Linked DNA regions of Homo sapiens. The protein of the gene in region 4 purifies or fractionates together with the protein of the main gene of each other region. This does not show direct contact. Each region holds a gene or a part of one and is shown on either strand. Other genes may lie near its edges. The genes, in order: PCOLCE2, MANEA, EDEM2 and OLFM1.

Region 1 (7,025 bases), on a different chromosome or scaffold from region 4:
ATTATTATTTTACAGGTTTTGGGGAGAGAAATTCACATACTCTGAAATGCACAAATCTTAGCTGTACAAATCTGAAAAATGGATATACCTGTGTAAACCACACTCCTATGATGATATAGAATCCATTTCCCACTAAATTTGTGCATCTCTTCCCATCCTGCCAGTTCTCTACACTACTTTTCTGAAAAACTTCCCATTAGATGAGTTTAATTTTAGAGCTCCATATAAATTTGTTTACCCATTCTCCTGCTGATGGGTGGTTTCTAGTCTGGACTATTGTGAATGAAGCTGCTATGAACAGTTTTGTACACATTTGTTTGTACATGTATCTTCATTTCTCTTATATAAATACCCAGGACTGCAACTGCTGGGCCAAGAGTCGATGTAAATATTTAACTTCATAAAAAACTACTGGAACTTTTCTCCAAGTGGTTTTACACCTCTCTCGAGTATGAACACTTCGGTTGCTTTACATCTTTGCTACCACTTGGTGGTGTCAGTTTTTCTAGCCAACATGGTGGGTAAGTAATGGCATCTCACTGTAATTTTAATTTGCATTTCCCTGATGACTAATGAGAGATACTGAGTAGTTTTTCATGCACTTATTGGCCATTCATATTTTCCTCTGTGAAGTGTCCAAGTGTTTTGCCAATTTTTATACTTACTGGAATCTTTACCTTTTTATCGTTGAGTTGTATGAGTTCTTTGTATATTCTGAATACAAGTTCTTCACCAGACATTTTTGTGAATATTTTCTCCCCTTCTGTAGGCTATTTGTATTTGTAACCATGTCTTTTTATAAGTATTAGTTTTAATTTTAATGAAGTTTTGTATTTTTCCTTTTACTTTCAACCAACTTGGTCTTTGTATTTCAAGTGCTTTCTTGTAGACAACATATAGTTGGGTCTGGCTTTTCAATCCATTCTAACAATAACTGTCTTCTAATCAGAGTATTTAATAATTTACATTTAATATATTTATTGATCTTCTTGGATTTAATGTGCCATTTACTACTTTTTTCTATTTGCTTTACCTTTCTTTTATTCCATCTGTTTTTCCTTATAGCCTTCTTTGGGTTAGTTGGATAATTTTAGTATTCTATTTTAATCTTTTGGCTTTTAGTGATAACTCCTGCATTTTTAATGGGTTCTCTAGGGATTATAATATGCATGTTTAAGTTATCAAAATTTACTTAGAGTTAATATTGTACTTCACGTGTTGTATATGTATGTGCAACAGTGTAATTACATTTATGTGTCCATCCTTTGGTTGTCAAACATATTACATCATACACTATATATTCCACAACACAGTGCTAAGGTTTTTTTGTTTTGAACAGATACATGTAAAGAAATTAAGAGAAGAAAAGAAAATAACATATACCCTTTTATATTTACTATTTCCAATGACCTTCATTCCTTCTGTTACTTTCATTTTACAAGGTCATTTACCTCAACCTGAGGAATTCTCTTCAATATTTCTACCAGTGTAAGTATAAAAATGCCTTTCAGAGATTTTTAGTGTTTATCTGAAAATGTCTTCATTTTACTTACATTCTTGAAGGCTGGCTATAGAATAGAGGTTGACAGTTTTATTCCAGCGCTTTAAAAATACTGTGACAGGCCAGGGGCGGTGGCTCACACCTGTAATCCTAACACTTTGGGAGGCCGAGGTGGGCAGATCAACCTGAGGTCAGGAGTTCGAAACCAGCCTGGCCAACATGGTGAAACACCGTCTCTACTAAAAATAGAAAAATTAGCCAGGCATGGTGGCGCATGCCTGTAATCCCAGCTGCTTGAGAGGTTGAGGCACAAAAATCGCTTGAACCTGGGAGGTGGAGGTTGCAGTGGGCCGAGATAGCACCACTGCACTCCAGCCTGGTCAACAAGAGTGAAACTCAGTCTCAAAAAAAATACTATGACACTGCCTTCTGGCTTCCAGTGTTTCTGAGGAAATGGAAGCCATCATTCTTATCACTCTTCTTCTGTATGGAATTTAGTTTCATCTGATTGATTTCAAGATTTTCTCTGTCTTTAAATTTCTGTAATTTAATTATAATGTGCATGGGGGTGCTTCATTTTTATTTGTCCTGTGGAGTTTGTTGACCCTCTTGACTCTATTTTTCTTATTTTCATTATTTATTTTTTAGATGGAATCTCGCTCTGTTGCCCAGGTTGGAGGGCAGTGGCGCAATCTCGGCTCCCTGCAACCTCTGCCTGCAGGTTCAAGCGATTCTCCTGCCTCGGCCTCCCGAGTAGCTGGGATTACATGAGTGCACCACCATGCCTGGCTAATTTTTTTGTATTTTTAGCAGAGACGGGGTGTCACCATGTTGGCCAGGCTGGTCTTGAACTCCTGATCTCAGGTGATCTGCCTGCCTTGGCCTCCCAAAGTGCTGGGATTACAGGCATGAGCCACTACGCTCAGCCCCTCTTGACTCTGTGAGTTGATATTTTTCACTGTATTTGAGCAGAGTCAAGTCATAATATCTTTAAATATTTTTTCACTTTATTATCACTTTCTGGGACAAAAATTACAGATGTTAGACCACTTGATATTGTCTCACTGGTTTCTCGAGCTCTTTTTCTTCAATCTTTTTCCTCCTTTTTCTTCAGATTGAGTAATTTCTATTTAAGTTCACTGACTCTTTTTTTCTGCCATCTCCCATCTACCTGTGAGTACAATAGGTAAATTTTAAAATTTCAGATCCTGTTTCTTTTATCTCTAGAATTATTAATTTATTTTTTAATAGTTCCTGTTTCTCTTCTGAGATTCTCAATTTGTTTATTTATTATGCACATATTTCCCTTTATAAATCCTGAAACAAACATGTAATAGCAGCTTTAAAGTACTTGTTTGCTAATTGCAACATGTGAGTTACCTTGAGATCAGTTCTTATTGACTGCTTTTGTCCTTGAATAGGGACACACTTTTCCTGTTTCATTACATAACTACAGACTGGACATTATGCATGATACATTATACTCTAGATTCTGTTGTGTTCTGATAAAAATAATTTTGTTCTAGCAGGCATTTAACTTGGCTAGACTCAAACTTAAAGTCTGTTTCCCTGGCAGCAGGCAGCAGCTGTAATCTCTTTTCAGTTCTTTCATTTTTCAGCTGATGCTTTTGTGCCAGGCCAACTGGGCTCTCCTCCACATATGTAGAGTTTAGCTGTCAGACAAAGATTTCAGTAGATTTTATACGAATATTTTGTGCCTCAATTCTGTAACTCCCTGCCTGGATTTCCTCCCCAACATTCTGGCTGCTCTTTCAGCCCCAGATTCTGTCCTCTGACCTTTCAAGTAAAAATGTTGCACTACAGTCCAATCCAAAAGCAGATTATGGACTGCTCTTGGGTAAAAGGCTGAAAACATACAAATATTGCCCACTGCAGTGATCTTTCAAAAGTAGAGATTTCTACGCTTGGGAGCTCACTATATCTCATATATCTGTGTGTGTGTATATATATATTTGTTGTTGTTTGAGACAGGGTCTCAACAACACCCAGGCTGCAGCACAGTGGCATGATCACGGTCACTGCAGCAGTGACCTCCCTGGGCTCAGGTGATTCTCCTACCTCAGCCTCCCAAGTAGCTGGGACAACAGGTGTGTGCCACCACACCCAGATAATTTTTGTATTTTTTGTAGAGATGGGGTTTCACCATTTTGCCCAGGCTGGTCTTGAATTTCTGAGCTCAAGAGATCCACCTGCCCTTGGTCCCCCAGTGTTGGGATTACAGGCATGAGCCACCATGCCTGGGCTCCACTTTTATTTTTTAAAAGCTATTGTATAAGTACTCAAATAAAAGCAAGCACACATAGAAAGGTATGGGAACCACTGGCCATGGCTATTTCTGGAGAATGGACTATGGAGTGGTGAAGGGGTGTGTTTGCATATTTGCATGTGTGCTTATGTATGTAAGCTCCACATTTTTACTCTATGAATTTCTATACTTGATTTACAAGAATGCATGTGGACTTAAATTAAAAGGCTGATTTTTTGTATTGGTCTCATCATGGTTTGATGGCATTCACTAGCTCTTTGAGAACCACTCTTAAGCTTTAAAGGAGTAAATAAACATCAAGTGCCAAGAACAGTGAACCAACATTACTGTTGTTATTGCCATTATGTGGAAACAGTACCTCTTTCGTTTGGTTCAGCAGCGGAGAACATGGCCATGAAGCCATTGCCAGCTGTGTTGGCATCAGAAATCATCTGCACCATCATCTTGTTGCCACTGGACACAAGGGCTCCAGGCCGGAAAGTGCCACAGAAGCGGCCAATGCGCTGGCCATTGGCATGGCCATTGTACACATCCACAAAGTCATAGCGGCACAGGTTGTCACTCTCGAGGTCTATGAATCGGAAATTGAGAACGACTACTTTTCCTTCGGGAACCTGCCAAGAAAAGCGCCAATTAGAAAACTGTCATGAAAACAATATCTGAGGCTTTGACATCTAGTCACTTACTTAAGTGTGTAAAGTATAATATCCAAGATAATGCTTTTTCCTCTCTCATATCTGAACTAACCCAAGGGAAGTTTTCTAGCATATTGCATTCCTAAAAAATTTAAGTACTTATTTTCTTTTGACAAATTCTGCAATTCTCCAGGATTCACAATCTTATTCCTTAAGAACTTACCTCAACAAAGCTGCAAAATATTAGGTCAGTATTATTAATAGATGAGTCATTGCTTAGAATGAATACCAGTCCTGATTGGACCTTAGCATATATTTGCATATTCTAATACCTAGAGATATTGCTTAGCAAAGAAACATTTAAAAATATCATTTCTTGGCCAGGCACAGTGGCTCACATCTGTAATCCCAGCACTTTGGGAGGCCGAGGTGGGCGGATCACAAGGTCAGGAGATCGAGACCATCCTGGCTAACACAGTGAAACCCCGTCTCTACTAAAAATACAAAAGATTAGCCGGGTGTGGTGGGGGGCGCCTGTAGTCCCAGCTACTCGGGAGGCTGAGGCAGGAGAATGGCGTGAACCCGGGAGGCGGAGCTTGCAGTGAGCCGAGATCGCGCCACTGCACTCCAGCCTGGGTGACAGAGCGAGACTCCACCTCAAAAAAAAAAAAATCATTTCTTACAAATAATACAGTAGGACGCATTCAATGCCTGTGTATAGAATGTTTCTATGAAGTTCAAAATAGAGGATTTATTTGGCAATTGTGTAGTTAATTTACAGATAATTCATTTTGGGTCCTGAAACATCCAGATGAACTACCGATACTGACTAAATGAACTGAGTAATTGCTGAATCATCTCTTCTGAATGTCACTAAGTTTTTTGCTCATTTGTTTTCCAGGTGAAGACTTTATATGTCAGGAAGCCTTGAGACACAATGCGCTAATGAAGAAAAAGATAAGCTTTCATTTTATCATAATATTTTATTCATCATAATTTCCCCATAAAATTCTTAATGATGGTTCCTTCCTTATTCCCTGAGTAGGTAGAAAAAATGGCTATAAAAGCATTTGGTAGGATTCTCAGGTTACCAAAGCCCCATTTCTTTCCCAGTTCATACCACCTTTTAATTTCTTCATTCAAGTTGTTCAGTCATAAAGTCTTGATCATAATTGTTTTACTCCTTTAATCAGATGAGGTCTCCACTGAATAGTGGAGAATTCCATTCTGTAAAAACTTACATATAACAAAACTCAGTGATTAAAAAAATCAAACACACACAATCAAAAGTGGTTGGTTTATATTCATCTTAATTAACTATTTCAGACTCAAGGGTCAATAGATGCTTTGACATTAATACGGCTTCCCCATGTTGGTAAGTACAGTGCCATACGTTTTATTTTCCTATGGTAAGATGAAGTGTTTTCAGTGCTATTTGCTTTTTGTGTCAAACACATCTACACTTCATCGTAGAAATTATAATGGCGTAGTTCCCAAAAGGGACATGTTTGGATTTGCCATCGTTGCATTCTAATTCCTAGAAGCTTGTCTCAGTGGTGTGAATATCAGAGTTCCAAAGAACTTAGAACAGCTTAAGAAGCTAATAACAGAAAGAACAATTTAAATTTTAAACATTATCACCAAGATGTCTGTTGTAAAACTTCCTGTCTTTTGCTTTGTTTTTTGTTTTGCACACAACCTCTATTTGTACAATAATCAGAAAGTTATCAAAATATGATGCCACATCTGTAATCTTAAATATAAGCAGGCTCTCTATGAATCACCGAAAAAGTCCTAGCCATGAAAAGAATCTCAAACTAATTTGTTTTTTTCCTGCATGAATAGTGACTATTTGTATAAATGTATAGAGGGTAATTCAAAGCTACGAAACTTGATGAAGTCACTCCCAGAGTGAATGTGGATAGAAAAAGGAAGAGGTCTAAGTATAGAGGCCTGGAACACTCCAATGTCATCAAGTCTGTGAAGAGGTCAAACCACAATAGAGACTGAGTCAACAAGTAGGAGGCAACCAAAGTGTGTGGCGTCTGGAAGCCAGGCGAAGAGAGTATGTCAAGGAGGAATGAATGGGCAACTGAGTTAAGTGCTGCTGCTGAGAAAGACCAGTGGATTTAGCAACACAGAAGTTTAGCAACCAGAAGTCACTGGTAATGCTGACAAAGCTGTTCTGGTGGCACCATGGGGAGAAAACTGGATAAAAGGATCATGAGAAAATGGGGTGAGAGGAAATGGTGACAATAAATATAAACAAGCTTTTCAAGGAGTTTTGCTGTGAAGATGAACAGAATAATATGGGGGTAAGGAAGGGGATATGGGGTCTAAGCAGAGTTTTTGCAATGGGTGTTTCCTAAGGCATGTTTGCATGCTGATGGGAAGGATTCTGTAGAGAGGGCAAAACTGATGAAGCAAGAGAGAGGGAGGATTGCTTAACAGATGTCCTTGAGCAGGCAAAGGGGGATCTGATCTACAGAAGGAACAGCTGGTGGAGTTGGCCTTAGTAGGAGCAGGGACAGTTTTGCCCAATGACAGAAGGGAAGACAGATGTAGGTAGGTCAGTAAATGAGGTGGTGAAAGCATATATAGA
Region 2 (7,025 bases), on a different chromosome or scaffold from region 4:
CAGGCTGGTTCAAATCAGCTCCACGTGTCTGTCATTCTGAGTCCTAGGCAGAAAGGGGCATGCTTTTCTTATAAAAGAGAATAAGAGCATAATCATGCAAGCACATAGTATACATTATCTCTTCTCACATCTCATCAGCCAAAGCAAGCCATAAGGCCAAACCCAACAACAACAGGGCAGGAAGTATACTTACTCTTTGCATGCAGGGGAAGGAAAACCAGATTATTTGCTAAACAATGACGGAATCTACCAAATATTTCTGTCATGTCTTACTCAAAAAATTGTTCCGTTGCTGTGTTCTTAATGGTGCAGGATATAGAGGAAGGAATCCAGCCCTGATTTTTACACTCTCTGCAAAACCAGCCTACTAAATGACAGTTATAAGTGCAACAGCCTTTGCTCTAGCAAACATGCAGACAAGTATACTTTAAAAGAACAGAAACTAAATCGCTTTGAAAAATCAAGATTTAAATTTTAGTTTCACTCATTTACACTTCCAAAAAAAAACCTAGTCACATTTGCTAAAGATAATGAAAAATAACTAAAGCACCAATCATTTCCTTTTCTTGCATGTTTGTTTATAATTTAAAAGGCACTTACTTAAAATAACTCTTGGTTGAAGTTAACAAATCAAAATTACAATTACAAAATATTTAATGACTAATATTAGTAAAAACATTATATAATCAAAATGAATGAACTATAACAAAAGTTTAACTGTGAGACGGATTCATTCCCTAAAAATTCTCCATCCATTTAGTATTTCCATGCTTTGAAGACTAGCAAGAAAAAAGAGATGTTACTAATGAACGCATTTTACACTTAAAAGTTTTAGATGTGGTCAGTTATGTGCATTGGAGGCTCCAATTTGTCAGCACACAATCTACAACATCATTAATCTTTTCCTATCAGATTGCCTTAGCACACTGAATAATTCTAGTAAGGTACTGTCATTCATTAAACATATTAAAATTTCCTTATATTAGCAAGAAAAGGGAAAGTTTTCCATTCTTTAAAAAAACAGGATTTACTGCATTTTATTGAGTTAGGAAAAATGTCTGTTCCACAACAACAGAAATCATAGACAAATCCAATAAAACTATCTTATGGTTTCATTGTCATTGTACAAATGAAGGGGATAAGCCAAGAAGATCAAGGAACTAATATAAGATTCCAGAGCTACTCAGTTAGAACAAGCTCCAGTCTCATGATTCCAGGTCTATTCTTTGTCTATACATAGTTCCTCACCATACACGAGGCCAAGAAACTGTTCTAAAAATTTTGGAAAACATTAGTCTATCGTGTTCCAAGTTTTTCTGATCATTAGATATAAAATCCCTAGCACAGAGAGATCAAGTATGCTGGCAACATTAAATAGGCAATTAGTGGTCGAGCTCTTTGCCACACTCTCCTTCTCTACACAGACACTTTAAACAGGAGAAAAAGCCAACCAATCCTCATATATCATAACATTTTCATTTTCTCTTTCAAAACTTCCTGAAAGTACTAAAATAGCCAGTTTCTTGAGCTTCCATCTTCCAGGATTTTGGCAGGGCCTGGACAGAAAAGCAGCTCTTGGGCTTGTTTTGTGGAAGATAAATCAATCACTTACCCAACCTCAGCCTGGGCACCAGAACCTGGAGGCTTGCCTATTTGCAGATTTCAAATGCCAATAAGAACTCACTGAAAGGCACCAAGGGACATGGCAGGTGACAGCTCTTGCTAGACAGCTAATTTGAGAGATGCTGTCTTAACAGTTTCAGGATAGTAAATCAGAAAGAAGAGGCAGCTTTATGGACAGAAATAAAAAAATGCTTGCCTATTTAGCTCTTTCTCACTCCCTACAGTTCCATTTCTATTCTCCAATAACTACTCAATCTCTAGGCTGCAAAAGGAAAATTAAGACAAAACTAATGTTTCACATTTTTATTTGAAACGAAATATTTCAACAGTGGTCCATAACATATCTTACAGGGCTCAATTACCAGTATTGGACAAACCAGATTGTCCTCCATTAGAATATAACTGCAAGAAGTTACAGAGCAAATAAAAAGCTTCAGCAAATTTTAAGAGTGGTTGCAATCTCAGAGTGGTCTCTAGTTAAAAGAACCTACATCACTTTTTTTTTTTTTTTTGAGATAGACTCTCACTCTGTCGCCCAGGCTGGAGTGCAGTGGCACCAATCTCAGCTCACTGCAATCTCTGCCTCCCAGGTTCAAGCAATTCTCATGCCTCAGCCTCCTGAGTAGTAGCTGGGACTACAGGTGTAGTATATCCATCAGATATAGTGTTTGAAATAAGATACTAAGAGACACCCTTTATCAAGCTAAAGAACTTTGGTTACTAAGGACTTCATTAACAATGAATTTTTATTTCCTAAAATTTTCAGTATCTCTTAAGATAACCATGTTTTACCTTCTTTAAATAATCAATGAAGTTTTATTTACTTAGTGCTTACTCTGTGCCAGACAGCAATCTATGTTTTACATATATTATCTAATATAATCTTTATAACCATTCTGTGTGTAAGGAAGGTTTTGTTGCTATTTCTATTTTAGAGATGAAGAAGCTGAGACACAAGTCATTTATAAAGCTACAAGGTGGTTGAGCCAGGATTGAATGCAGACCTGAATTTAGATTCAGATTTCATATGATTGGAACCATTCTTAAATCCTTGCTAATAAACACTTCTTCTCAAAATTCCCTCTAGGAATTTTGAATCTATTTTCATTGGTAAGATTAGTCTGTCTCTTTCTTGTTCTATCCTTTCTTAGTTTTAAATAAAAATTGTGCTATTGTGGAATAAATTTGGAAGTTTTCTGTGGTTGCCATTCTTCAAGATGGCCCCCCGATACCCATCTCCTGGTATTCATAACTTTGCAGTTCCCTCCCACATTGTGCCATGGTTGTTTTATCCGTAGATAAAACAACAGAATGGGACAGAAGTATTAACACGTCATTGCCAAGATTTATGTCAAAAAACAAAACAAACAAAAACAACCCTGTAGCCCCTATATTAGACTCTCTCTCAGATCTTTCACTCTAGTGAAGCTGGAGGCCCATATATAGAAGTACAGAGTCTCCAGTTCACCTGCTGCAAAGAACTGAGGTCTGTCATCCACCACATGAGAAAGTCTGTTAGTGGATCCTCTAGCCTCAGATGACTACAGCACCAGCCAATAGCTTGCCTGTAACCTCCTTCAGAGACCCTGAACCAGACACTCCCAAATAAGCCACTTCCAGATGCTTGACCCTTAGAAATTGTGTGAGGTAACAAATGTTTATTGTTTTAAGCTACCAAGTTTTGGAATAATTTGTTATGCAGCAATAGATAGTGAGTATACTTGACACTGTATTTCAGTTATCATAAAAATCAACTATTCTGAATACAACTGAGAGGTAAACCTGACACTTTGGGGAAGACATTTGTTCAATTATCTTTTATACGTTTTTTTCTAGGATAGTCAATTCAGATTCTTTAAACCTCTTTCTGCACCAAAAAAAATTAATTTTAGTATTTTCCTATAAAACTACCATATAAATTTTAAATAGACTGATATAAAATCTTAAACTCTCTTCTGAAACTATAGGTATATTTCTTTTCAATTTTTGCTGATATGTTTTCTCAATTTCTTTTCTTTTTTAATCTCACCAATGGCTTGCCTATTGTTTTTTCCCCAAAAGTGGACAATAGTAAAGATTAATTTATCCAGACTACTGATTTTGAAGGACTTGTATACTATTTAATTAATTTCACACTTCATCTATCATAGTTCTTTCTTCTACTATGTCTTATTATTTAGGTCCCATTGGTATTGATAATGCAATAATCTCAGTGCTATTTATATCACTTAAATTTCAGAGTTATTCTCAATTATGTTATTAAAATTTTAATAATTTTATACTTTCTAAATGGTTTGGACTTAATTATTAACATTCCATGGTACTGAATGTGGTCAGAGAATGCAGACTCTATGGTTATAATTTTTATGAATTTATTAGAATTAATGTTGCTACCTAATACATGACCAATTTTTAAAATGTATCTTTGGATATTAAAAACAGTGCTTATTTACTTGCTATTCAGTATAAAATTTTCTTTTGTAGTGCTATTTAAATACTTTTAATCATCACTCCTATTTGTTTCCATGATTCATTAATTTCTAAAAGAAATAAAATCTTAAGACTGTCAGAAGTGTTCCCTCATTTGCAACACACATTAATTTCTGCATCAAATATACTTGATCTTTCTGCTGTATTCTATATTTACTCAGGTGTGTATGTGTATGCACATTAAATAAGGTTTAAATGAAAATTGGATTTTGAAAAATATTTGAGCAAGTTTATTTTTTAACTACTTTATAAATATGCAAAGTTACATGGTTAATACTTGTTTTTAGATTTTTGACATCTAAGATATTTAGACATATAAATCTTCACTACTATATTATCTTCACAAAAGAACCTTTCAATCCCTTTCTACTATAAAAAAATAAAACATTAGAAACATAGTAAAGAATCTCTAAAATATAATTTAGATAAGATTGAAATTCCTATTATAGAAATTTTCTTTATGAAATATAGTATTTAAAAGATTCTAAGTCATTATCATTTTTAATTAAAATTACTATTTCAAAAATTGTTATTACTCTCCTCTTGTCCAAAAGAATTAACTTATGTATAGCTTGAAAATAAAATAAAATACCTTTAGGTTATATTTATGAGCTTTATCCAAAATAGTGGGTACCAAGTTATCAGTAGGTTCTCCATTTTCATCATTTACATCAGGTGGGTACCAAGAGAGGGCTAGTACACCTAATAGAAAAGACCAAAAAGAAAGGGAAAAGACAAGAACATGAATGCAGATATTCTTAAAAAGGCACAGTAAGTACCAAAGAGTTAACAATAGAAGAACATATTTATACGAGGTGGTTTTGTTAAGTTCCTTCAGAATACATATGGCTATTTGATCACTTTGTCAATATTTATGACCTCTTTATCAGGCATTAATAAGCTTTTGTAAAAGTGAACAGACTTTACATTTTAGAGTAAGTTTTAGGTTTACATAAAAATAGCAAAGAAAATATGGAGTTCTCATATACTCTTCCTCCTACCTGCCCCAACCCTCCACACGGTTTCTCCTATAATTAACATCTTTCATTTGCTACAATTGATGACCCAATATTGAAAGATTTTTATTCACTAAAGTCCATAGTTTACATCAGGGTTGACACTTTGTGTTGTACAGTTCGACAGGTTTTGACAAATCTATTATACCATATGCTCTCCATTAGAGTAGCTGAAAAACTAGTTTTACCAGCTCTATAAACCTCCTGTGCTATACTGATTCATCCCCGTTCCCTCTCCCCCTCACCCCTGCCAATAACTAAGCTTTTTGCTGCCTATAATTTTGCCTTTTCCAGAAGGTCATATAGTTGGAATTACAAAGTATGTAGCTTTTTAGAACTGGCTTCATTCATTTAGCAACTTGAATTTTTAGGTTCCTTCATACCTTTTCATAACTTGATAGCTCATTTCTTTTTACTGCTGCATAATATGCCATTGTATTTATTTTATACATTCACCTAATGAAGGACATCTTGGTTGCTTCCAATTTTTGCCCATTATGAGTAAAACTGCTATAAACATTTATATGCTGTTTTTGTGTAGATCAATACCTTTTAACAGAAGATTCTAACATAGTAAAATAATTACTGTTCCTCTCTGTAGTGCCTGCCTACTTATTTTTGAACTGATAAATTATGTGTTAGAAGCATAAATTACATGAAAATCACTAACTGGAGACGGAATATTTAAGATGAATTAATTCAAAGCCTCATTACGTATACAAAGAAATGGACAGTCATTAGAAAGATTGCACAAATTTCTAGATAAATAAACAGACTCTTTAAGGCAGAGAAATAAATAATAATGGTACCAAAAGAGAAGCATATGGAAATTAAGAAATTGAAGGTAAGAAACTGCTGGAGAACTAAATTTTAAGACCTAAGTTTTGTGCTAGCCGCCATGTACAAATAAGTAAGTCCCATCTAGGACAACAAAATCAAAGTTAATGGAAAAATAATCCTTATGTCCCCTATCCACTCTGAAAATAAGAATGGCAACTAGAACGAAACATAGAAAAAATAACCTATAACATATGAGGCTTTAGGGAAACTGGCTAGCCAGAGGAAGGCATATCCTAGAGAGAAATGCTGGTGAGAAAAGTGTCTGGAGACAATCCAACATTTTATAAGCGATCACTTACAATCTTGTAAGATTACTAGCCCAGCTTATAAGAAGAATATCACCAATGAAAATAAGAATGACAACAAAAAGTTTTCTCAACATGGGACCTACGAAAAAATTATTTTATGCAGAAAATGAAAGGAACAAAATAAGAAAAAATATTAAACAACAGAAAGATTATGCTATGAATCACATGAAAATTATAAGCAAAACATTCTTCCATAAAAGTAAAAACAAAACAAGATTCCTGTTTCTAATAATAGCAGACTAGTCTAAAATAACAGTTGGTCTAATAGTAAACCAAGCACTCTCCATGAAAATAACCATTATTATTATATAAAACACGGGGAGAAAATGTCTTAAAGAGCTGAAGAGAGTAAGAAATGTCCTGGCCAAATTGAAGGGAAAATGTGAAACCAGAAAGATAAGTGAGCAAGGAGGTCTGTTTGCCCCAAGCAAAATTGGTACAAGTAAACCAACTCTCAAAAGCAGTGAATTAAACTGCAGGTTCACAATGCTTGTACAATCCTCTAGCTTTAGACCTAATTTAAGGTAACCAGAAATGGTATTCTAAACAGTCACCAGGCAGAAGCAAAAGAAAATCCTTTCTGGAGGAAGGCATCTTCTTCCTGGGCCTCAAATTATTTACAAAAAGTATTTCATAAAGAACAATAAATAGTATACAATCAAAGATAATTAAGAACACAAAGAATAAAACACCATGCACAAGAATTGGCAGAAACAAGACAACAGCAACATGCAACAACTTCAGGTAT
Region 3 (7,735 bases), on a different chromosome or scaffold from region 4:
TTATAATTTTTTTTGAGATGAAGTTTCACTCTTGTCACCCAGGCTGGAGTGCAATGGTGCAATCTCGGCTCACTGCAACCTCCGCCTCCCGGGTTCAGGCAATTCTCCTGCCTCAGCCTCTCCAGTAGCTGGGATAACAGACATGTGCCACTATGCTGGGCTAATTTTTTGTATTTTAATAGAGATGGAGTTTCACCATATTGGCCAGGCTGGTCTCAAACCCCTGACCTCAGGTGATCTGCCTGCCTCGGCCTTCCAAAGTGCTGGGATTACAGGTGTGAGCCACCATGCTCAGCCTGATACCCTTTTATTATCATTGAACATGGCCACTAGAATGTAAGCCTCTGAAAACAGGAGATGTCAAAGTCTCTGTATCCCCCATAGAGCTATGCAAGCCTATCACAATTCTCCGTACATAACAGGTCCTCTATAAATGTTTGCTAAATAAATGAATCTGCATAAGTTGTAGTTCGTTTTTCCCCTATCTAGCTAGGCAACCACAGCCGGACGCTTCAGAATCATGAGATGCAAATAAAAGGCCTAGGAGAGGAATTCATTTTTCACCCACAGTCACGCTGCCAAAAGAGGAAGGATGTTGGTTATGTAACAGTGGAAAGGAAAAGAAACAGACGAGATACTTACCAGCAAGGTGTCCAGTGCATCAATTAGAGTCAGAGAAAAACTGCAAAAGGACAGAAATCCCAGCCGCTTAGTAAGAAAATCAAATACCAGATATTATGGCTGCCCTAGATCTGATCCCCCTAAAACTAAATGAGGCAAAGTAATGCCTCTGCCTGTCCCACTTACAGTCACAACAGAGAAACCACAGTGAAAATCGCAGGTATTCTCTGACCCACTTAATGCACCTGGGAGGGTTGGCTGATGTAGCTCAATTGTAATTAAATACATCACCTATAGTCTGGCATTCTCCTCTACCATTGGGAGGCAGTATAAGATTGCAGCTTAAAGCACAGGCCTTTCACCAATTTTCACCTCTAGGAATTTAATTCACAGTGAACAGCTGTTTGAGAGTGTTCATGGCAGTATTGCTTAGAACAGCAAGAGGCTGGAAAGAACCCAACTGTCCACCCATTAATGGGTGATTAAACTGTGTTATAAACAGTGCAAAACTATGAGTTATCAAAAAGATTGTTATCAAGACTTCTATGTGCTGATGGAAAGACATTCGAATTGTTTTTAATGAAAAAGTCAGGGTGGTTTAGTATGTTTCCATCTGTTTCAAAAAGACATGCTGACAGAAAGCAGACAGCAATTGTTAGGGTCAGTGGTGGTGCAGGGATGAACTATAAAGGGCCACAAGGGAACTTTTTAAAGTGACAGAAGTGTTTCATATCTTGACTGTGATGGTGGTCACTTCAAACGAGTGTAGGCTGGGCACAGTGGCTCATGCCTGTAATCCGCCAGCACTTTGGGAGGCCTAGGTGGGTGGATCACCTGAGGTCAGGAGTTCAAGACCAGCCTGGCCAAATGACAAAACCCCGTCTCCACAAAAAAATTAGCCGGGTGTGGTGGTGGGCTCCTGTAATCCCAACTACTTGGGAGGCTGAGGCAGGAGAATCGCTTGAAGCCAGGAGGCGGAGTTTGAAGTGAGCCAAGATCACGCCATTGCACTCCAGCCTGGGTAACAAGAGCGAAACTCCATCTCAAAAAAAAAAAAAAAAAAAAAAGAGTGTATTTTATTATATGTAAATTATGCCTTTAAGAAGTTCATTTTAAAAAGATACACATACACACATCTATATATATAATGGTATAAACCAAGAATATTTCTGGACAGATACAAAGGAAAGTTAATAGTTGGAATTCTAGGGTATGGGAGATATTTATTGTATATAATCTTTTACCACTTGAATTTGCCATTTGTATTTACTTTGTTTCAACTTAAAAAAATAAAAACCATCACAAGTTTTGAGTTTAATTTCTCCCGACCTTAGCACATTCGTGTGTAAAACAGGGATAATGGCACCTAACTCGTAGGGGTATTAAGATACTGAGCTGAGATCTGAATGACAAGCAGCAGCCAGTGATGGGAGGAAAATGGGGAGTGTATTTCAGGCACGGGGCACACCAACTACAAAGACTTAAGTTTTAGGAGTGTCACACTCCTTCCTGGATCTGAATGCCCACCTACATAATGAAAGGGGTGGGTTTTCTAATTCTTGGAGCCCTTCCACGGTATCTCGTTACTCCAGAAATTGCCTATGTCCCCACAGCTGATGCCTGTTACTGCTGGGGCTGAGCTCAGCGATCCAGCCCACCCGGCTAATCCAGGACTTTTTTTTTCACTGCGAGAGGCTAAGTGGATCCTGGAGGTGATAGTAAGAATTGCGGGGAGCGCGGCTCTAGCTCAGCTGGGAGCTTTCTGGTGCCGGTGAGGAGACCATGAAGCCACCAGCCCCAGCTGACCCGCCCGCCGAGGCCCAGAGAGTCAGACCCTGGCCGCCCCTTGCCCCTCCGCTCGCACTACCTGCCCCAGGTGTCGTGCCCGTCACAGGTGAGAGGTCGCAGCTCATCGAAGGGAAAGGCATTCTCCAGGTAGCTGTCGTAGGCGTGGTAGAACATGGCCTTGACTCGCTCCCTGGGTGGGGGACGAGAAATCAGGCATGGGGCAAGAACACAAAAACAAGCGGGGGAAGAACAAGATACAGGGCGGAAAGTGGGAATCACTAGCTGATTTCTCCCTGGGACCTAGCGGCTGTGTCGGAGCAAGTCGGGGTCTGGGATGGACGGAAAGGGAAAGGACCGGGTTCACGCTTCCCATTCCCCAACTGCGAAAGGGCGGGTCACAGTTCACCTGTAGTGGGCGGGATCTGGCGCGGAGCCGTCGGGACCTGGCGCACCATGGTGCTGAGGCAGCAGCGCGCACAGGAGGCCGAGCGGGATGAGCAGCCGGAAAGGCATAGAGCTCGTGTCCTCTCAGCGCCCCCGCAGCAGCAGCAGCCACTGCAACCAGTTCATCCTGGGAGCTGCTGCGGGTTCTTCCGGGAATCCGCGCCACTGCGCCTGCGCGCTGAGAAATCAGCCTCTCACTTCCGGACTACAAGCCCCTGAATGCAATGGGCAGCGAAACGCGGCCGAAGAGCAACTTCGGATGTACGGTTTCGGCAACACTGATCAACGTGTCTTAAAGTCAGTGGCTGTTGTTACTACTGTTATTAATTAATGTTTTAATAATAACAGCTAGCATGTATTGAGCACTTATTGTGTACTAGTACTGTACGGAGCATTTAAAATGCATTCTCTCATTCATTTTTTTCAACAACCTTATTAAGTATGAAGGCAGGGTAAGCATGAGAAATGTTCAGCCTTTACCATTATTACCTAGCAGGACAAGCCGCAGACAAAACTCCTCAGACACCGGGTTAAAGAAGGAAGGAGCTTTATTCGGCCGGGAGCGTCAGCTGACTCACTTCTCAAAAACGGAGCTCCCCGAGTGAGCAATTCCTGTCCCTTTTAAGAGCTTACAACTCTAAGGGGGTCCGCGTGAGAGGGTCGTGATTGATTGAGCAAGCAGGGGGTACGTGACTGATTACCGGTGCACCGGTAATCAGAACGGAACAGAACAGGACAGGGATTTTCACAATGCTTTTCCATACAATGTCTGGAATCTATAGATAATATAACCGGTTAGGTCAGGAGGGGTCGATCTTTAATTACCAGGCCTGGAATGCATCGCCGGGCTGTCTGACTACTGATTTCACTTCTGTCTTTCTTTTAACTCCTACATTTTCTTTGAGGCAGAAATTGGGCATAAGACAATATGAGGGGTGGTCTGCTCCCTTATTTAGGGATATTGAGTTTCCCAAACCAGTTACTTGTTGATTGTATAAGACACAACTCACATTTATTTGTCCAAAACTTCCACTCTTTTTTTTTTAAAACCTCTTGCATTTTCCGATGCTGTCACTCTTGAGGTTTCCTGAAATCCCGTCAGTTCTAGGAATTCATGACACTTCTCTCCTCCCAATTTGGGATGTGGTTACACAATCATGGTCCCTTCAGTCTCCATCTCAAACCGGAAGCTTTACCCCTGTCAGCCCTGTAGAATGTCTTGGGTAAGAATGAATACCCTGGTTGGGCGCGGTGGCTCACGCCTGTAATCCCAACACTTTGGGAGGTTGAGGTGCGTGGATCACCTGAGGTTAAGAGATAGAGACCAACCTGGCCAACATGGTGAAACCCCGTCTTTACTAAAAATACAAAAATTAGCCAGGGGTGGTGGCGGGTGCCTGTAAATCCCGGCTACTCGGAAGGCTGAGGCCGGAGAATCGCTTGAAACCGGAAGGCGGAGGTTGCAGTGAGCGAGGATCGCGCCACTCCACTCCAGCCTGGGCAAAACAGCAAAACTCCATATCAAAAAAAAAAAAAAAAAAAAAAAAAAAAAGACAAATGACTACCCTGGGGCACTATAGCTTTCAGGAGGTTTGTGATCCATTTCTCCATTCCCCTTATTCCCAAGTTTCTAAAATTTGGTCAGCACCTTAGACCACAGCAACACCCATGACTTTGGTCAGTGTGACATGCGGTAGAACCAACACTGGATTTGAAGTCAGATCTAGGATCCAGTTAATTACAACTCTGTCACTCATCTATAACCTGTGTATGTGACCCTCTCCTTCTCTGGGGCTAGCATCCTTGTCTATAAATAATGAGGAGTTTGAACAAATGGATCTTTAAGATCCTTTTCGGTCGAGCTTTCTATGATTCTAGGATTGGCTATCTCTTATTTGCTGAAAAAGTCAGATGGAAGTGATAGCTCAGTTTGTTGAGCCAGAGTGCAGCCAGGCCTCCCAAAGTGCTGGGATTACAGGCATAAGCCACTGTACCCAGCCTGGGATGTTTTTAGAAACTCTTCTTGGCCGGGTGCAGTGGCTCACGCCTGTAATCCCAGCACTTTGGGAGGCCAAGGCGGGCGGATCACGAGGTCAGGAGTTCAAGACCAACCTGGCCAATATGGTGAAACCCTGTCTCTACTAAAAATACAAAAATTGGCCGGGAGTGGTGGCAGACGCCTGTAGTCCCAGCTACTCAGGAGGCTGAGGCAGGAGAATCGCTTGAACCCGGGAGGTGGAGGTTGTAGTGAGCCAAGATCAAGATCAGGCCACTGCACTCCAGCCTGGGAGACAGAGCGATACTCTGTCTCAAAAAAAAAAAAAAAAAAGAAACTCTTCTTGGGGCTTCCAAATGGAAGGGAAAGGAGATGACAGTAAGCTGAGACCTGGATAACAACACAGGAGCACTGTATTCGTTTCCTGTGATTCCTGCAACAAATTACCACAAACCAAGTGGCTTAAAGCAACAGAAATTTATTCTCTCGCAGTTTGGGAGGTCAGGAGCCTGAAATCAATTTCACTGGGCTAAAATTAAGTTATTGACAGGGCCACACCCACTCCAAAGGCTCTAAGGGATAATCCGTTCCTTGCCTCTCTAGATTCTCCTGACTGCTGGCATTCCTTGGCTTATGGTTGTATCACTCCAGTATCTGCCCGTGCCTTCATATCGCCTTCTCTGTGGATGTGTCACATCTCCTTCTGCTTTTCTCTTATAAGGACATTTATAATTGCATTTAGGACCCCCCCCGCGCCCCCCCCAACCCAGATAATACAGGATAAACTCCCATTCCAAGATTTTTAACTTAATCACATCTAGGGGGAAAAAAAAAAAAAAACACCATTTTTCCAAATAGAGAAACATTTACAGTTTCCAGAGATTAGGACCTGGACTTTAGGTGGCTGTTTCCAGCCTAGCGCAGGGACTAAATATTTTTCAGACCTGGGCCTTTCCCTGTGACGAAATTCACCTTCTCCATATTATAAATCCTATAGCTTATCTTTTTGTCTCCCATTCAAAATTCTAGTGTGGATAAAACTTTTGCAGGAAGGGTGGGTTCAGGTTGCCTGGATTTGGTAACGATAGGTCTCTCTTTATGAGCAAGATTGAAACACTCATGATTTTCCTTTATATTCTTTTTCTAGCTTGATGTCATTCTCCACACTGTCACTGAACAAATAAAACCATGACTTACGTTTTCACAATTCATGTGACTATATGTTCTCTAATGAGAATAAAAAAATTGTTTTACCCTCTGGAAAGTATCAGGACTCTTCTTTCTCTCACTCTGTGTTTATGATATTGGATTCTAGAAGGTTATGACCCACCAGTGAAGTGTCACACTTGAGCATTTACTTGTGAAGAGACTCAGGGTAAGTTGCCTACCTCTCTGAGACTCAATTTCCTATTGTAAAATACAGAAATTGATGAGGCCATAAAGGAATTCTGGGAATTAAATGGGATAATGAAAGTGAACATTCTCAGCACAGTGACTGGTATATATTAAATTCTTGATACATATTAATTCTCTTCCCTGCCTCCCCAACTCTTCTTTTTTTTTTAAGGCAGGGCAGTTGTTTCCATTTACTGAGCATCTGCCCCGAGTCATCCAAGGTGTTATAGGCAATAGTTCCTACCCTCAAAAGTTTGAGGCACAGTGCTGAGCATATAACTAAGATTCCAAAATAATCAAGTCATAGTCCTTTCCCTTGAAGTGCTTGCAATTTTGTTAGAAGGGGAAGATGTCAATTGGAGAATACTTGGAATCATAGGGTGTTCAAGTCTTCCCTGTGGGTGAATAGAGTTTGGAGGGAGCTCAGATCACATCAGTATCTGAGGCCAATGTCCTCGGACTCTGTGTTCAGTGGAACAAGACTTGGACTGGTTGTCGGAAACCCTTGGTCTTGTTACTTGTTTATCCACTATCTCTGTGTGATCTCGGGCAAGTCATTTTCCCTTTTGGGGACTCAGTTTCCATATCTGGAAGATGAAAGAGTGAGACTATCTCTCAGCACAAGGAAAATATTAACAGATCCATACAGTTATTGCAAAAAATCAGAAAACAGAATTCAACACACATCGACTGCACAAATTTCCCCCAGAAACATCCATGAAGCAGAATAAAACAGTGGGACAGCATTCCAAATGGAATTTGACTATTTGCCAACTAAACAAGGAAGAGGAGGGGGATGGGGAGGGGGACAAGAAGAAGAAGGAGAAAATAGTCACGTGTATTGATAATAGCGAACATTTACATAGCAAGTAATGTTCTTTGTACTTTACATCCATCAACACCATTAATCCTTACCACAACCCTCTGAGAAAGTGTCATTATCACCATTTTATAAACCAAAAACCTGAAGCACAGATTCTAAGAATTGAAGAAAGATTTAGCAACTTAATCAATGTCTCATACCGAATAAGTAGAAGAGTCAAGATATGGACCCAAACAGCCTATACTCTAACGCATTAATGAAAATAATGACAAATATATAAATAAAAGGCCAACACAGAATTCAACAATGGAGATCTGGCGAACTGCTACAGTGTCCTCTAGCTTTAGCTTCATGTGGTTTTAGGGTCAACATTTCCTTCCCTTTTGCTAGAAAGTTAGAGGGAAAAGCTCAGTTCCCTGAAGTTGGAAGCCAAGGCATTTTAGATCCCCTTTGGCCAAGTACACTCGACCTCTTTTAGCAGGGAAGAATCCTTTTTGTAGCATCTGGAGGTCATTTGGTTCTCCCAACTCCCAAAGCAGGGCTTGCACAATACATACTTTTGACTTGCCAAAAAATAAGTTTATCCCTGGGAAATTTCCCATCCATCTGTTGCTTTGTAGAAATGCTTGAACTTTGCATGCAGTATGTCCAAACATTTCGATCGACTC
Region 4 (6,881 bases):
CCGTCTCACCATGCCCATGTGACTTCTCAGTGGAGCCTGTGGTGACAGGGGGCAGGTCTAGTCCTCTCTTCCTGGACCACCCTTGGAAGTCTCAATCCACCTGTGTGTCCACCCACCCATCCACCCATCCGTCCATCCATCCACCCACCCATCCACCCATCCGTCCATCCACCCTTTCACTCATTCACAAATATTTTGAGTGGAGACAAACCAGGAAAGAGTCAAAATGGGGCCTGCAAGCTAGCCAAGCCTTGGTGCTGGTGTGAGCACACAGGCATGTACACACACACACACACACACAAACACACACACATACAAACTCACACACTCTGCGCAGACTCACCTTCTCCAGTAGCTGCCTCAGCTGTTTTGTGCGGGCATCCCGTGAACACATGGTCTGCTGTGGAGCGACCACTGTGCAGATACACCTGCCCTCGCTGTCCTGGGCAGAGCTGTACACCTGCCAGCTCTCCTCAGGGTTGGTGGGCAGCACCTGGAGAGGGGCGGGGCGGGAAGGGAGAGGGAAGGAGAGAAAGGGAGACCATGAGGTTGTGTATCAGAGCCAACAACCAGGGGAAACTGTCCACATCCACCCCCAAGGAAAAGATGGGAGGAAATGGTCCCAAGACATGTTTGACCCAAAGGGAAGAAAGGGTCCCTGGGAACAAAGAGGCACAGGTCTCCTGTTAGGGGGCTCAGGGCTGGAAGGATGTCAAAGAGGCAAGACCCTTTACGTTCTTAAAATTTAAGTTCAACTCAAGGGATGTCTGGAGTTTGTCGTCTGGCCAAATTGATCTGCTGGGTGGATGGGAGGGGCAACTGGAGGCCACAGGCTGGACTAGGAGCAAGGCAGGAAAGCAAACGCTGGGTGGCTTGCAGCGGGCACGTATTTCAGAAACAGGATATCCTTCCCGTAAGTCAAGCACGGGTGGCTGGCACCACCAAGCCTCGCCCTGCCGTTCCCTGACACTTGCAGACGAAGCACCCACTGTAACAGCCCCAGATCCAGCAGCCTATTCGCCCAGAGCTGTGATGAACCCCGAGCTACAGCAACCTCCCAGCCGGCAGCGTGGCACAGACCGACCCGAGAAAACACTAGGTTTCCAGCTCCTTGTGGGCTCCCCCCACGAGCCATTTGGTGGAGGTCGCCAAATTGCTGGTGACATGCTGTGCAGGGGTCACCCCCAACCTCAGTCCTGAGGTTTGCCCAAAGATCACCAAAGAAACCGGAGCTGCCCATGTCTGGTCTAACCTTGCAGCCCAGCCCTGCCAGGTACCGGGGCGGGCACTCCTGAGCCTACACAGCTCCATCCTGCTGCTGGCCCTACTGTCTCTGAGCACGCTCCCCTCCGGTGGCATCAGGTCATCTCTCTGCTATTTTTAGCATGAAGATGGGGAGGAGAAGTTGGGCGGGTAGAATCTATAGTAGTCATATCTTTAATCTCATTCATTCCCAACCCCAGAAGATCGGGACCGGCAGGCCGGAACAAAGTCATCATGGAGGAATCGCCCTCCGATTCCTGAAGGAGCAGGGAGGGCGGCCTCAAGAGGGGTCTTAGGAGGGAGCCACACCACGGAGCCCTCTTCGCAGGGCACTAAACCCCTGGCAGCAAAAAGAGAGAGGGAGGGAGACTCACGTCCTTCACCTCTCCTTTCAGCCTAAAGGGCCAGTGGTCTGGGGCGCGCCTTCCCGGCAGCGGCCCCTTCCCCGCGCGGCCCTCCGGGTGGCGGTTTCAGCTCAGCCTCGCTCAGCCATCTAAGTCAGCTCTGCCCAGAAGCAGCCCCGGCCACGGTTCCCCTCCCGCTAGGCTCGAGAGGGAGACGCGATTTCAATTTCAGAGGCCAGGAGGGAGGGGTGCGCGCAGAAGACGAAGGCAAAGGCGAGGGGGTGAGCGCCCAAGGGCAGGCTCCCAGGGGCCCCACCCAAGCCCCTCGGCACCGTCCTCGGAGGAGAAGGAACAAACCCTCCTATGGACTGGGGAGGAAAGGGCGCCTTGGGACTTTGGGAATGCAGGCGCGGGCAGGAGCTCCGGAGCCCACCGGCTGGGGCCCCACTCCCAGCCCGGTCCGGCCAGTCTGGCTTTTACAAACTAGGGCGGGCTCAGTCCCCGCTGGACCGAGCCCAGACTAGGGTCTAGCGGCGGCTCCACCCCTCACTCGCTGAGTGTGACCTTGGACAAGTCCCCAAGTCCCCAGCCTTAGTTTCCTAACCTTTTCAATGGGGGGCTCATGATTACTGACCCAGGACTCCAAGCCTCCGAGAACCCACCAAGCTCCCCCGGCCCCGCGGCGAGGGGCCCAGACGAAGGAAACGCCGCCCCAGGGGCGCGCGGGCGGAGATGGAGTGGCCCAGGCTGGGGGAGCGGGGAGCAGGGTCGCCACCGCTGCGCCGGCCCGCGACGCCTGCCCTTGCCCGCCCTGCTCCCCGCCGCCTCCCTGGGCGACTCGGGTCCCGCGCGGCGCCCGCCCAGCCCGGGGCTCCGGACCGAGGAGGGGGAGGAGGAGGAGGAGGAGGAGCCGCGCCAAGGCGGCCGGCGGGCGCACTTACGCCGGTGCTGCGGTCCAGCGTCCCGCCGCCGGCCGCCGAGAGCTTGGTGGTGTTGAGGCCCACCAGCGAGGGCAGCGTCTGGGACATCCAGTTAGTGATCATGGCCATGGTGCTCAGCACGACCCCGATCTTGAGCAGCGGCACCGACATCGCGCCTCGAGCTGCCTCCAGCGCCCGCTCCGAGCTGGCACCGGCTCCCGCGCCCAGGCGGCCTTCAGGCGGCGGGCACCGCGGCGGGCAGGGGCGCCTGGCTGTGTCCCCGCGCCCCCTCGGCCCGCCGCCGCCCGCCCGCCGCCGCCGCCGCCCCGCGCGCCCCGGCCATCGCCGCGCCTTCCCCGGGCGCCAGGGAAGGTGGCCAGGTGGCCTCTGCCCGCCGCGCCCTGCGCCTCGCGCCGCCCGCCCTGCGCCCTGCCTTGCCCGGCTGCGTCCCTCCGGGCTCCTCCGCCGCCACCGGGAAGCGCCGTCCGGCTCTGAGCGCTGCGCGGGCTGCGCGCGGGGGCCGCGGCCGGGAGGCGGGGCTCGGCCGGGCGGGACCGACGCAATCCGCCCAGGAAATGGGTGGATTTTTCCTCTCGCTCGGCTCCCCGCCGCCCCCTGGCTGCTGGCAGCGAGGTCTGCAAACTCCAGTCCGCCCAGGAGTTGGGATCAGGGTGACATGAGGAGACGGACACACCACCACCCCCAGATCATAAAATACCCGGCGGCGGCGCGGGGACTCCAGCTGGGGGCACGGCCCGCGGCCCTCCCGTCCCGGGGCTTCTCCCATCCTCACGCCGGGGCATCCCTCTCCGATCCCCGCAGAGGGTCCGCTTTGGGGCAAAGGTTGCCGGCAGAGAGACGGCGCCGTCCTGCCTACTGGAGCCCTTTTCCGCGGTGATTCGAGGGTCCCAGCCAGCCTGGGCCGTCGCCTGAAACCCAGCAGGCAGGGCAGGCTCCGAAAAGCAGCCAGACTCGCGAGGGCCTCCAGCGCCAGGGGGGCGTCGGGGCATCGGTGGAGAGCTAAAGGCGCCCCTGCGATCCCAGGGCAGCCGCGGTGCCCTAAGGCCTTGCTTGGGAGGAAGGGAGCCAACCGGCACTCCTGACACCTGCACAGCAAGGCGGGGGCTGGGGTGGTCTGCCGTGGCCCGCGGTGCGCAGTGAGGGCCCTGGGAGGGCGCACACCCGGCAGGAGCTGCATAAGGTCTGGGGCTCAGGCCTGGACCTCAGGAGCTGAAGGGACCACGCCCATGAACCTGGTGTTGGGGAGGTGGGTGTGTGGGGCGGGGACTGGGGTCTGTGGTGGAGGGGTGTGGGTTGGGGGGTGTCCTTACTGACTCAGGGGTGGCGCTCGAGTCATGGCGCCCAGGCACAGAGGCAGGGCAAGTGGCGCACGCTGCCCCTCTTCCCGGCCCTCTGCGGCGACCGCAGCAGGACTCACGCGTGTCAGTCCCACCTGAAGCGCAGGCCTGACTGGGTCAAACACGTTAATAGGGCTTTTGCATTTACAGAAGGCTTCTAATCGGAGATGAAAGCCACTTCCTCCGGGGCCTTCCATTAAGCTTTCCCAGCCATTTGGGAAGGAAAGAATCCTCCAGATCACTCACTACACTCTTCTCTGCCTGGGCGAAAATTAATCTCCCTTCCTGGATGGGATTTGAAAGACGGACGCCGGGCCGGAAGGAGCGCGCCTCCCTGGCGCCCGCCTGAGAGGAACAACGCCTTCCTGGGGCTTTTCTCTCTGTGTGCGCAGTCCTCGGCTGAAGAGACTTCAGCTGCAGCCAAGATGATCCTGGCCTGAGTGCTGGGTGTGAGACCCGCTAGTTAAATGAGCCCCTCAGATCTGCTTTTCTGATTAATGCTGTAATCTCAGGCAGCCGGGCTGGGTCGGATGCCAGGAAATTCCAACTGTTGGGGAAGGGCGCCATCTCCCAGTGTAAGCTGGGACTGCAGGCCCGGCTCACAGACTGGGCCCAGGCGGAGACACAAGTCCGGTTGGGCTGGCTTCGCCCCCCTCCTCTGGCCATGCATGTTTAACACCGATTCAAGGCCACAAGCCGTGTCTGTCCAGATCACTCACGCCGCTTCCCGCTGCGGAAGGACAAGGACCACTTGTTCTGCGGGAACAAATTCAAATGCAACCCAATCCAATCCACAAAACTGTCAGGCCATCTCAGAAGCCATAGACATTTATTTATTTAACGAAGTAAAAGATTAACCTGCACTTGGACTGCTCTAACCTGCACCTGAGCGGCTCCAACCTGCACCTGAGCGGCTCCAACCTGCACCTGCTCCAAACTGTCCTGTCCAGTTTCTAAAATCTGTGATTCAGTGGGCATAATGGTTTTGAAAGGGTCGTCAGATAAGGCTTGAGTAAGTGTAATTGGATTTAGAAGGCCATGGAGCATTCCAGAAGGAAAGTATGGATCGTTGAAGAATGAAGGCATTTGGATTAGGGGATCCATGGCGCCAGGCAATACCAAGTGTTCCTAAAGAGGACTTTCAATCCCAATTTCTTCACGACTTCTCTTAAAGCCAGGGCTCATCACACCTGCAGCTCTGAACAATCATACGGATGCTGATGGGGCAGGTGCTGCGCCCCTGGTGGCACTGGGGCTTTGCCATGCCTGGCACCCAATCCTTACTGAAGTGCATGGTGTGGTGGCATTGACTCCACTGTATAGATGAGGAATCTCAGGCCTAGAAAGATGATAAGACCTGTCCAAGGTCATATGGTGACAGCCTATTTCCAGGGCTAAGCCCATACACATGGTGGCATCCTCGTCTTATAAATGTCATGGCCATAGTTAAATCTCACGAGCCCCAGAAGTGGCATGAGTTGCATGGCCACAGCAGCCCTGGCTGTCCGCACAGTTCCACGAGCCACAGAGGCCGCCAGAAGACATTTCATGGGCCCTTGCCTTCCACGCTCGTGGGAAGGACAGGAGGTTGCCCACCCCTTTCTGAGTCCTGGCACGAGCCTGCACCACCCTCCCTGTCATGACAGGTTAGAACAGCCACGTCTCTATCCTCATGCCAGCCCCCTACAGGCCTTGACCTTGGTGGACTCTGTACAAATTCATCAACACACATAAAAACAAGCACACCCCCTCTGCATCTCCCGGCTTCAGAGCTCAGAAGACGCAAGTGTGAGAGGGTGCTCCTGCCCAGCTTGCTATAGACCTTACAAGAGGCGGACACACGTGGGCTATTGGGGAATCACCTCGAGAAGCCCTAGGACAGCCACATGGTGAGCTGATAGGGCACAGACGACACCAACACCCACAGTCAGACGACCACTGACACCCACAGTCAGAACAGTGAGGTCCGCAGGATGCAAACCTACTCAGGTCCCAGAGCCAGGAGTGGCTGCTTGGAGGGAAGCAGGTCTCTGGGCCACTTCCCGATGCTCCTTGGCAAAGGATGCCCTCAAGGGACAAAGTTTGGATGCCCGGTTGCTGTTTAAAAATACGCATACTCTCCTCAGGCTATTGGCAAATATCTTGAAGGGAAACAAGGGGAGGGGAGGAAGAAAGGGAGGGAGAAGGGGAGAAGAAGAGAGAGAGAGAGAGACAAAGGCAGAGAGACAGAAAGACAAAGAAACAGAGAGGAGACAGAGAGGAAGACAAAGAAATGGAGAGAGAGACAGAGAGAGAGGAGAGAGAAGAGAGGAGAAACAGAGAGAGGAGAGACAGAGAGAAGAGAGACAGAGAGGAGAGATAATAGAGACAGAGAGGAGAGACAGAAGAGAGACAGAGAGGAGAGATAATAGAGACAGAGAGGAGAGAGAGAAGAGACGGAGAGAGGAGAGACAGAGAGAGAGATGAGAGACAGAGAGAGAAGAGAGAGAGAGAAGAAAGATAGAGTGACACAGAGAGAGAAGAGACACAGAGAGAGGTCCCACATGGAGCCACCTCTCCTTTTTCTACGTTGTATGTAGCTTTTTCATTCCCTTTCTGTGCTGGAACATTCCAGGAGCAAGGAAAGGACCTGGCCTCAAGCCAGGCAGAATGGGAGGAGCCACAGGTCCCCTGGGCACTCCCTCTCGGCAGCCACAGAAGACCAGCATGGGTCTTCTGAGCCAAGTGTTCCCTGTACTCCCCTCCTCTGAGGCCTCTGGGTTCACACATGGGTGGAGGCGTAACTGCTCCTCACCCCCTTCCCTGGAGAGGATTTCCATCCTGGCCCGGCTCCCTGTGCCTGGCAGCACCTCCCATAAGCTGACAGTCTCCCAAACACCACCTGCATCAGGCGTGGCTGTGTGACCTGCGATTTTGGCCCCGGGAGGGAGAACGGCTAAGGGCCACGACTGAGCAGCTTTCAGAGCCAAATGTCTCAGTCACACCCTGTCTCTCTG

Evidence for each region.
Region 1: the proteins of OLFM1 (region 4) and PCOLCE2 purify together in Homo sapiens (affinity purification with mass spectrometry; 3 studies listed by BioGRID and IntAct, with this or other methods). This does not show direct contact.
Region 2: the proteins of OLFM1 (region 4) and MANEA purify together in Homo sapiens (affinity purification with mass spectrometry; 3 studies listed by BioGRID and IntAct, with this or other methods). This does not show direct contact.
Region 3: the proteins of OLFM1 (region 4) and EDEM2 purify together in Homo sapiens (affinity purification with mass spectrometry; 3 studies listed by BioGRID and IntAct, with this or other methods). This does not show direct contact.

Annotation. Positions count from the first base shown.
Region 1 is NC_000003.12:142,844,071-142,851,095, forward strand, and holds part of PCOLCE2 (procollagen C-endopeptidase enhancer 2 precursor), read right to left. Parts: intron 4,403-7,025; coding exon 4,147-4,402; intron 1-4,146. UniProt on the Homo sapiens protein: Binds to the C-terminal propeptide of types I and II procollagens and may enhance the cleavage of that propeptide by BMP1.
Region 2 is NC_000006.12:95,594,527-95,601,551, reverse strand, and holds part of MANEA (glycoprotein endo-alpha-1,2-mannosidase), read right to left. Parts: intron 4,816-7,025; coding exon 4,706-4,815; intron 1-4,705.
Region 3 is NC_000020.11:35,144,337-35,152,071, forward strand, and holds the start of EDEM2 (ER degradation-enhancing alpha-mannosidase-like protein 2 isoform 1 precursor), read right to left. Parts: upstream 3,001-7,735; 5' UTR 2,923-3,000; coding exon 2,816-2,922; exon of another isoform or gene 2,600-2,815; coding exon 2,489-2,599; intron 683-2,488; coding exon 643-682; intron 1-642. Other genes in the region: MMP24-AS1-EDEM2 (ER degradation-enhancing alpha-mannosidase-like protein 2), read right to left, coding at 643-682, 2,489-2,583. UniProt on the Homo sapiens protein: Involved in the endoplasmic reticulum-associated degradation (ERAD) pathway that targets misfolded glycoproteins for degradation in an N-glycan-dependent manner.
Region 4 is NC_000009.12:135,083,807-135,090,687, reverse strand, and holds the start of OLFM1 (noelin isoform 4 precursor), read right to left. Parts: upstream 3,021-6,881; 5' UTR 2,699-3,020; coding exon 2,549-2,698; intron 494-2,548; coding exon 344-493; intron 1-343. UniProt on the Homo sapiens protein: Contributes to the regulation of axonal growth in the embryonic and adult central nervous system by inhibiting interactions between RTN4R and LINGO1. Inhibits RTN4R-mediated axon growth cone collapse.